Homo sapiens: one gene and its partners. The protein of the gene in region 1 interacts with the protein of each later gene in a pairwise test. Each region holds a gene or a part of one and is shown in the gene's direction. Other genes may lie near its edges.

Evidence for each region.
Region 2: the proteins of EPAS1 (region 1) and BMAL1 interact in binary tests that used the Homo sapiens proteins (3 or more experiments, as listed by UniProt).
Region 3: the proteins of EPAS1 (region 1) and BMAL2 interact in binary tests that used the Homo sapiens proteins (3 or more experiments, as listed by UniProt).

Annotation. Positions count from the first base shown.
Region 1 is NC_000002.12:46,384,324-46,387,271, forward strand, and holds the end of EPAS1 (endothelial PAS domain-containing protein 1), read left to right. Parts: intron 1-185; coding exon 186-337; 3' UTR 338-2,374; downstream 2,375-2,948.
Region 2 is NC_000011.10:13,280,667-13,284,423, forward strand, and holds part of BMAL1 (basic helix-loop-helix ARNT-like protein 1), read left to right. Parts: intron 1-3,757. UniProt on the Homo sapiens protein: Transcriptional activator which forms a core component of the circadian clock.
Region 3 is NC_000012.12:27,419,816-27,423,572, forward strand, and holds part of BMAL2 (basic helix-loop-helix ARNT-like protein 2), read left to right. Parts: intron 1-580; coding exon 581-717; 3' UTR 718-3,757. UniProt on the Homo sapiens protein: Transcriptional activator which forms a core component of the circadian clock.

The DNA of each region.
Region 1 (2,948 bases):
CTGAGGCAGTGGTTCTGGAGGCAGACACGTTCCCCGGGCATGCAGCAGGCCGTGGGACAGACACCACTGAAGGAGCAGAGTGAAATTAGGGCTGCTCTATTGGTATCCCCCAGTCACAAAGAAGTAGACACTTTTCCAAATGTTCGATTTAGGCCTTTAAGTTATGGTACCAACCCTTCTTTCAGGCATGGCAAGCCGGCTGCTCGGGCCCTCATTTGAGTCCTACCTGCTGCCCGAACTGACCAGATATGACTGTGAGGTGAACGTGCCCGTGCTGGGAAGCTCCACGCTCCTGCAAGGAGGGGACCTCCTCAGAGCCCTGGACCAGGCCACCTGAGCCAGGCCTTCTACCTGGGCAGCACCTCTGCCGACGCCGTCCCACCAGCTTCACTCTCTCCGTCTGTTTTTGCAACTAGGTATTTCTAACGCCAGCACACTATTTACAAGATGGACTTACCTGGCAGACTTGCCCAGGTCACCAAGCAGTGGCCTTTTTCTGAGATGCTCACTTTATTATCCCTATTTTTAAAGTACACAATTGTTTTACCTGTTCTGAAATGTTCTTAAATTTTGTAGGATTTTTTTCCTCCCCACCTTCAATGACTTCTAATTTATATTATCCATAGGTTTCTCTCCCTCCTTCTCCTTCTCACACACAACTGTCCATACTAACAAGTTTGGTGCATGTCTGTTCTTCTGTAGGGAGAAGCTTTAGCTTCATTTTACTAAAAAGATTCCTCGTTATTGTTGTTGCCAAAGAGAAACAAAAATGATTTTGCTTTCCAAGCTTGGTTTGTGGCGTCTCCCTCGCAGAGCCCTTCTCGTTTCTTTTTTAAACTAATCACCATATTGTAAATTTCAGGGTTTTTTTTTTTTTGTTTAAGCTGACTCTTTGCTCTAATTTTGGAAAAAAAGAAATGTGAAGGGTCAACTCCAACGTATGTGGTTATCTGTGAAAGTTGCACAGCGTGGCTTTTCCTAAACTGGTGTTTTTCCCCCGCATTTGGTGGATTTTTTATTATTATTCAAAAACATAACTGAGTTTTTTAAAAGAGGAGAAAATTTATATCTGGGTTAAGTGTTTATCATATATATGGGTACTTTGTAATATCTAAAAACTTAGAAACGGAAATGGAATCCTGCTCACAAAATCACTTTAAGATCTTTTCGAAGCTGTTAATTTTTCTTAGTGTTGTGGACACTGCAGACTTGTCCAGTGCTCCCACGGCCTGTACGGACACTGTGGAAGGCCTCCCTCTGTCGGCTTTTTGCCATCTGTGATATGCCATAGGTGTGACAATCCGAGCAGTGGAGTCATTCAGCGGGAGCACTGCGCGCTATCCCCTCACATTCTCTATGTACTATGTATGTATGTATTATTATTATTGCTGCCAAGAGGGTCTGATGGCACGTTGTGGGGTCGGGGGGTGGGGCGGGGAAGTGCTCTAACTTTTCTTAAGGTTTTGTTGCTAGCCCTTCAAGTGCACTGAGCTATGTGACTCGGATGGTCTTTCACACGGCACATTTGGACATTTCCAGAACTACCATGAGATGGTTTAGACGGGAATTCATGCAAATGAGGGGTCAAAAATGGTATAGTGACCCCGTCCACGTCCTCCAAGCTCACGACCTTGGAGCCCCGTGGAGCTGGACTGAGGAGGAGGCTGCACAGCGGGAGAGCAGCTGGTCCAGACCAGCCCTGCAGCCCCCACTCAGCCGGCAGCCAGATGGCCCCGCAAGGCCTCCAGGGATGGCCCCTAGCCACAGGCCCTGGCTGAGGTCTCTGGGTCGGTCAGTGACATGTAGGTAGGAAGCACTGAAAATAGTGTTCCCAGAGCACTTTGCAACTCCCTGGGTAAGAGGGACGACACCTCTGGTTTTTCAATACCAATTACATGGAACTTTTCTGTAATGGGTACAATGAAGAAGTTTCTAAAAACACACACAAAGCACATTGGGCCAACTATTTAGTAAGCCCGGATAGACTTATTGCCAAAAACAAAAAATAGCTTTCAAAAGAAATTTAAGTTCTATGAGAAATTCCTTAGTCATGGTGTTGCGTAAATCATATTTTAGCTGCACGGCATTACCCCACACAGGGTGGCAGAACTTGAAGGGTTACTGACGTGTAAATGCTGGTATTTGATTTCCTGTGTGTGTTGCCCTGGCATTAAGGGCATTTTACCCTTGCAGTTTTACTAAAACACTGAAAAATATTCCAAGCTTCATATTAACCCTACCTGTCAACGTAACGATTTCATGAACGTTATTATATTGTCGAATTCCTACTGACAACATTATAACTGTATGGGAGCTTAACTTTATAAGGAAATGTATTTTGACACTGGTATCTTATTAAAGTATTCTGATCCTACCACTGCTGGTGGCTCTTATTTCCTGTGGATTTATCATGGGCTATGCCAATGTAAAGTGAAGTATTAAGTCGTTCATATAAATTGAACATTAGCACAGACCTTTATGAGACTACTGAAGTGAGCTGATAAGACTGGTGAAGGAAAGACTGTGTTAAATACTTGGTAGTTGCCTAAGTCTGAAAATTCATATTGTATCTTCCATATTTCTGCAAGTATTTTTCTATCTATCTATCTATGTGCCTCGGGGCCATTTTTTGTATCCTATGGGGAACCCAAGGAAAGAAGTCATGGTCTCTGCTTTCAGAAAATTACATGAAGTCGTTTGAGAGCCACACTGTTCTGTATATTCACATAGTGCACTTTGGGATGGAGGTCCCGAAGGGAAAGGGGCAGCCTGGGCATTAGGACTTCAATTTGGAGGCGGCTGGGCTGGAGTAGGGTCTTCCCAGGTAGACTGTGATTGGGAAGAGCAGAGATCCCCTCGGCCAGAGACAGAGCACAGTGAAAGCCCAGAACTGGACATGAGCATGATATGTTCCCCAATTCAAATTTCACTTTTCCAGATCATGACCT
Region 2 (3,757 bases), on another chromosome or scaffold:
TGTTATCCTTCTCCACAGTCTTTTTTCATTGTCACCTTATCACAAGACTCAGATTTATCCCAAATACCCACCTTGTCTTTTCTTCTCCCTCTCATGAAATAAGACCTGCTCTGACTCAACCCCCTCAGCATCTCTTACTTCCCACCCAAAATGTCCTGTCTCTATCCCCATCGTCCCCTCATCTCCTCCCAATTCAGAGAAAGCAAGTGGACCTCTCCTCTGTTCCTTTTCTTGGCCTCTCACCATGGGCAAGTGCCTGGGCTCTGGTGGCAGAAGAATCCATGGCTCAGGTTTGGGCTTTGTGGTCTTGGATGTGTGCTTGACTCCTCTGACCTCAGGTTTCTCCTCTTGGTGTAATGGCAGTGCCTGCCTCGTGGAGTCTGTGTGAGGATTAAGGGAGATGGTGCATGTAAAAGGCCTGGCACACAGGAAGCCTTTCCTTTGTGCCAGCTGCCATTCCTTCTCACCTCTACCCGGGTCCTATCACTAGAATATTATTTGTGCTGTTTGTCCTTAGTCTCCCCTGCCCCACCCTGAAAACCTTAGGCTTGACTTAGGAGAGGAAGGATGGAAGAGGCAGAGTCAGACTTGTGGTGAGCCTGCTGTGTACCAGGCAATTTACATGTGTCTTTACTTGGTACCCTGGGTTCGTAAGCCTCTCTTTCCTCCCTCCTGCCAGCCTCCCCCACTCTCCCATCTCCTGCTCCATTCTTAGTACCTGCCCTCTGGCTTCTCTCGCTACCACCTTTCTTTATATTTCTTCTCAAAGTTTTCTCCAAAACTTTGTCGTGAGTTCCTGGGGCCCATCTGCCCATCCTTATTCCTGAGTGGTTGTTCTTGGCCCCTTTGCAGTATTTCTTTTATTTTTTTAAACATGGTCTCAGTCTTGCCTGGTTGGAGTGCAGTGGTGCAATCGTGGCTCACTGCAGCCTCCCAAGTCTCAGGTAATCCTCCTGCCTCAGCCTCCAGAGTAGCTGAGCCTACAGACACGTGCCATCACACCTGGCTCATTTTTGTATTTTTATTAGAGATGGAGTTTTGCCATGTTGCCCAGGCTGGTCTCAAACTCCTGGGCTCAAGTGACCCACCTGCACTGGCCTCCCAAAGTGCTGGGATTACAGGCGTGAGTCACTGTGCTCAGCCCCTTTGAAGCTTTTACCTCACTTGTTTTTTGTCCTTTGAAATCCTTTCCTCTCTCAGCCTTTGGGTCATGCTGGTTTCTTGATTCTCTTCCTGCACCCCTGTAAAGATAAATGTCTGTCCTAGCTTCTGCTATTCACACTGTCCGTGGCCTGGGGTCCCCTCTCTAGCCCTGACCTGTCTCTCCTGTGTTCTGCTAGCAGGTCCGTTGTGGACATGAATGGCAGCCTGTAATCTGCATTTGTGGTCTCGGAGTTACAGGTTTGCAGACTGCTTGCAAGCACTGTCACATTGAGTCCTCATGACACACTGGAGCCTACATCCCTTCATTCCCCAGGCTGTCCTAAAAGGCAGTTTGGTTGGGTAGTTTAGCATACAGACTCTGGAGCCAGATTTCACATCCTAAGTATTCCCTACTGGCTTCGTGACTTGTGGTCAATTTTCTTTTGCTCTCTATGCCTTGGTGTCCTCATCTATAAAACTGGGATCATAGTAGCCCCTACATCAGAGAGTTGAGGTGTGGATTAAATGAGTTAAAGCATTGGAAAAAGTGTGCCAGTCTATTCATGGCACATTGCAAACACTCAGTGAATGTTGCTGTCAGTCTTGCTGCTCTTCGTTGCCTTGCCGGGGTGCCTTGGCCTGGTTTGTAGTGGTCTCCACATTCAGCCTGCCTGTCTGCCAGACCTTGCCATGTGCCTGGACACTGTAGTCAAGCTGAGGGGCTGTCCATTCCCTGTACCAGCCCTTGGCCCAGTCCATCCCTCAATTTTCACGTGTCCAAATCCTCCTCTGCTTTTAGGACCCAGGGCCTTGGTCCTGCAGCACTATTTCTTCATTTTGTTTTCCTTCCTCCCCACACCTGGCAGCAATGTCCACATTGATTTTTCTCCAATTCTCTTAGGTTCTGCTGCATTCCATATTGTGTTGGGCTGTCTCTGAAAATATCTCACCTGCTCGCTCAGCCTGAGCATTCTGGGAGAAGTTTATCTTGCTTTTTCCAAAATGACAGGCACAGGGAGCCTTTAGGCCATGGTTGTCCAATGCACATTGATCTTGTGGAGGAGGAGATGGGATGGGGTGGGCACTCAGGGACGGAGCAGGTGGAGGGAACAGGATGCACACTGCATAGAGGTGGGGGTGCAACAGGGCCATAAGTGGACATGGCCGTAAGTACTTAGGTCTGCATGGAAGGAGGGTTTGAATTGGGGACTTAACCTCAGGGGGAGATAAGATTGGATAAGGTTTAGTCATCTTTGCTGCAGGGGAACGTTGAGTACTGGCATGTAATGGAGAGTGGTTTTTACCTTAGTATGTGCTGTCCTTTTAAATAGTGTAAACTAATTCTTTATCTAGCCTGGTTAAAGAAGGGGATGGCTGGTCTGCCTAATTTAATATTTGGCTATTGCTCTACCCACTGGGTTTTGTGCATATACTGAATGAAGCATTGGCTTGTATTTATTCCTTCAATCACTGTTTGAAATGTCTGACCTGGGCAAGTTAATTAGCTTCTCTGAGTGCAAAATAGGAATAATAATTATTACGATAATAGCAGCTAACATTTATTGAACACTTTCTATGTGCCAGCACATATGTGAGTCACCTTTGCTTATTAACTCATTTAAACCCCATAACAACTACATGAGGCAGGTACTATTATCCTTACTTCACAAATGAGGTGGTTTTATAAACTGCCCAAGGTCACTCAGCTGTTATGGCTTGGGGCAGAATTTGTGCTGGTGAACTCCAGAGTCTGCCCTGTAACACCCTAGTAGATTCCTACTGGGAGGAAACACCCCGTTATATCCCTTACCTCACTCAGCCGCACCATGCCAGGAGCCTAGTAGGCTGACAGCAATTGGGAACCAGTCTTATTGTTGACAAACATGGTATGAGCCTCTTTTAGAGCGGAGCTGCCTGAAACCCTCCGCATAAGGGATGCGGACCTGGATGCTACCTGAGCAGCAGCTCCAGGGGCTTGTGAACATTCTCCTCACATCCTGTTATGCATGGCTGTCTCTCTGGCCTCCCCCTGCTTTCTCTGCAGCATTGCTCTGACCCAGGCCCCCTGTGGCTCAGCCAGCTCCTCCCCAGGCAGCTCCTTGTGTGAGATGAACCTTTTAACATAACTCACTAACCCCACCTCCCACCCTCATCTAGCCATCTGCAGAGCTCCTCACTGGGGAGGGGACCTTTTCAAAGGTCCCTCACCTTCGTCCTTTTCTCCCTGAAGACCAACGTCCACAACTTTGGTATATCCACAGTGTTGGGGTGTGTGTGTGTGTGTGTGTGTGTGTGTGTGTGTATATATATGTGTGTGTGTATATATATATATATGTGTATATATATATATGTGTGTATATATATATATGTGTATATATATATATGTGTGTATATATATATGTGTATATATATATATATGTGTGTGTATATATATATATATATATATATATATATATATTTTTTTTTTTAATGCCAGTTGTTCCCCAAATACATTTAGATAGTAAGGGACACATTGTTTTATGTCAAGAACCTGTTACATAAAAATGTGTTATATAATGTTCAAATATATACTGCACAGTGAAATTAGATACCACTTTTTTTTTTTCAAAGAATA
Region 3 (3,757 bases), on another chromosome or scaffold:
AGAACCTTTTATCTCTAAATTAATTATCATCTCCATGGTTCCTACTTACTTCCTTTTTCAATAAAAATCTGATTTATCTCCCTTTTATAAGAAAATTCCAAATCTTTAGAAGATGCTTCTGTCTCAGGCTTCTCATTTCAGTATTAAACAGATAGGGTTTTTTCATAAGCAGATTAAATTTTCTCCTTCCAGGGTTTGCGCGTGCACACACACACACACACACACACACACACAAACATACACTAAATTTCCTAGCTTCCTTCCAGCTCTCTGAGAGTCTGTACCCTTTAGCAGTGTAATTTCCTATTAGAAAACTCATAGACTAGCTTACTTCTCTGTAGCAGATGAATTAGGTGCAATTTATCTGACAGAAGATTGTTATAAAACTAGGTAACCCATTTAAAAATACATCAGCCATCTGCAGCTTAAGATATATACTTTGCCTTCAAAAATACATTTTATGGTTTTCTAGCCTTGCTTTGCCATTTTTTATCACAATCATTTTTTAACCTCAAAATGTGTGAAATGTATGACTTTACTGATCACCTTTACTTACACAGGCCTGTATTTTAATTCATAGGTGATGGTGCACAGTTGGATTTCGATGCCCTATGTGACAATGATGACACAGCCATGGCTGCATTTATGAATTACTTAGAAGCAGAGGGGGGCCTGGGAGACCCTGGGGACTTCAGTGACATCCAGTGGACCCTCTAGCCTTTGATTTTTAACTCCAAAAATGAGAAACATTTTAAAGCATTTCATTTACGAAAAACTGTCTCAACTATTCTTAAGTACTGTATTGATATTGTTTGTATCTTTTATTAATGTTCTACCACTTTTTATAGATTTGCATCTTCCTGTCACAGGGATGTGGGGAAATACGTTTTCCTCCCAAGAGAACCAAGTTTATTATAGACTCCTTTATTCAGTGAAATGGCTTATAATCCACTAGTTGCCATATTTTTGCTAAAATATTTCTAACCAAGAATACTACTTACATATTGTTTTGGCTTTGTTTTATTTTTGATGCAGTTTTTTTTAGTTGAGGTAATGTAATATATTGATGTTTTCCTTTGTGTCTAAGATTCATTTATAATAGTAGGTTTGTATAATTTGGAACATTTTCCATTCCTTGCGAATTTCCTTAATTGAGGATAGGGCTTACACACTTTAAGAAAACAGTGAGTACTTGAACATTTAAAGGGACAGTGCAATTTATAGTCATAATCACATTGAATACTGTATTTGATCTTTGGAGACTTAGGCAAGCACAGAGCTGGGATATTTATGCTCAGTTGAGCACTTTAAGATGAATTTTAAGTGAGATGATTTCTTGCTTAAAACTCAGAAAGTCAAAAGAGTTTCAGCTTTCCTTACAGAAAAGGAAGGATCTTGGGCCCTAGATCTTGGGGATTAACCTCTGCATATAAGATTTACTCTTAATAGGCCAGACGTGGTGGCTCACGCCTGTAATCCCAGTACTTTGGGAGGCTGAGACGGGCAGATCACTTGAGGTCAGGAGTTCAAGACCAGCCTGGCCAATATGGTGAAACCCCGTTTCTACTAAAAATACAAAAAAAATTACCCAGGCACTCACTCTTGAGGTAACTAACCAACTCCCACGATAATGACAGTCCATTCATGAGCGCAAAGGCCTCATGACCTAATGGCACACACCTGTAATCCCAACTGCTTGGGAGGCTGAGGCGAGAGGATTGCTTGAACCTGGGAGGCAGAGGTTGCAGTGAGCCGAGATCGCACCACTGCACTCCAGTCTGGGCAACAGAGTGAGACTTCATCTCAAAAAAAGTAAAAAAAAAGATTTAATATAATCACTGAAGATCTCTATTATAGATAGATTAGGTTTTTGACATTGGAAACATACTTAGGGATAGATTTGTCCTAAAGGAAAAAAGTAGGCCCGGGCAGATTAAATGTCTTGTGTAAAGTCACACATTAAATTCAGTCACACATTAAATTCATAGAGTTTTAAATGTTTAATGTATATAAACCAGTTTCTTTATACACATTTGGGAAAACATTGGTCTCACAGATTAAATGATTAACTAACTGACCCAGGAACTAGTTGTAGCTTTCTAAGTAATTAGGCAATTACAGTTATTGCCTGTAACCAAAGGTAATAAAACAAAATGACAAGTACATGTTTAAAATTATGAGGCAATGAGAAATAATTTAAAAACCAATTTTCTAGTTATAATTTAAAATTTGGAGAGCATTTTTAACAGTAATTAATCCAGAGGTGGCTCAAATTGAGTATAAGAATTAAGATTATTTAAAATACTGCATGTCTACCTTCTCGGGGATCATACTTTATAACACTTTCTGCTTCAGTAGCTCTTCATAGCTTGCCAAGTATGCTCCCATATTTTCTCTCTCGTGCCTCGCAAATGAAAGTCAGATAGGCTGGGAACTCATGGGGCAGCCCTCAGACTTCAATGTGGGCTTCAAATCCAGTTTCCTGTTCTATATGGTGCTACATCTTTCCAGAAAATTTCCCTCAGAGCCCCTCGCCAAAACAAAGCATTATTTTGACCCTGCATGCTATTTCTTTAGCTGTAGGTGATAGATTAGAACTTCTGTCAGACATGTTAATGACAAACATACCAACAGACAATAACCAAAAGCAAATGTTTCCTTCAAGTGTGAAATGTGCAGGGGCTTCGTGGGCAAGGATGTATTGGCACACTGTCCTCTTGAACTGATAGTGTCCCAGCAATGTTGGAGGGTTGGCACCATTCCTGGTCCGACACTTGAGGACCTGAGAGACATCAGGTTTAGAATGAGCCAAAGAAATCCTACAAGATGGGGAGAATTGGTGTGCAGCAGCCTAAGTGTTATAGTTAAGTCTAAAGAAGTATGAAAGATCCCCTGTGTTCTCTAAATTGAGCAGAGGGGCCTGCCTACCAATATCACTTTTTAGGGGACTGAACCATTGCAGGTTAGACTTGGCTTCCAAAGAGTCTGCCTAAGCCAGGGGTGGCAGGGTAGGCCATCATAGCTGGATGGCCTCAAAAGCAGATGGGGGCAGACTTGCCCTCGTGATGCCAGGATTTGAGAGGCAGAGTTTCTAGAGGGAGACCAGTGCTGCCTCTCACAGTGGCAGTTTTTTCTCTTTGCAAGAGGAGGGGCTGTTCAATTCCATAGACCAGTGGGCAGATAGCCAGTTGAATACTCTGTGCATGGTTTGATCCTTTATTAGTTCGCTCTAATATTTTTCTGTAGATCCTTTTGTCCTGGACTCAAAATCTAATCCATGCATTGTATGATACCGTAGCTCTCCTAAGGTTTGTGTTTCCTTCAAAATGTTTTAGTTTTCTTCAACTAAATTTGATTTTTGCTGTTAGAAGTGACATATTTTTATGGTATACACTATGTTCCTTTTTTCTACTGCGAGTCAATTTTTTGAATTTTCGTGAGAAAGAATATATCTACAAATTGCACGAAAGTATCATAAAAACAGTACTCTAGACTTTTCTTTTCTTTTCTTTTTTTTTTTTTTTTTTTTTTTGAGATGGAGTCTCGCTCTATCGCCCAGGCTGGAGTGCAGTGGCGCGATCTTGGCTCACTGCCATCTCTGCCTCCTGGGTTCACGCCATTCTGCCTCAGCCTCCAGAGCAGCTGGGACCACAGGCGCCCGCCACCACACCTGGCTAATTTTGCTTTGTATTTTCAGTAGAGACGGGGTTTCACCATGTTAGCCAGGATGGTCTCGATCTCCTGACCTCGTGATCCG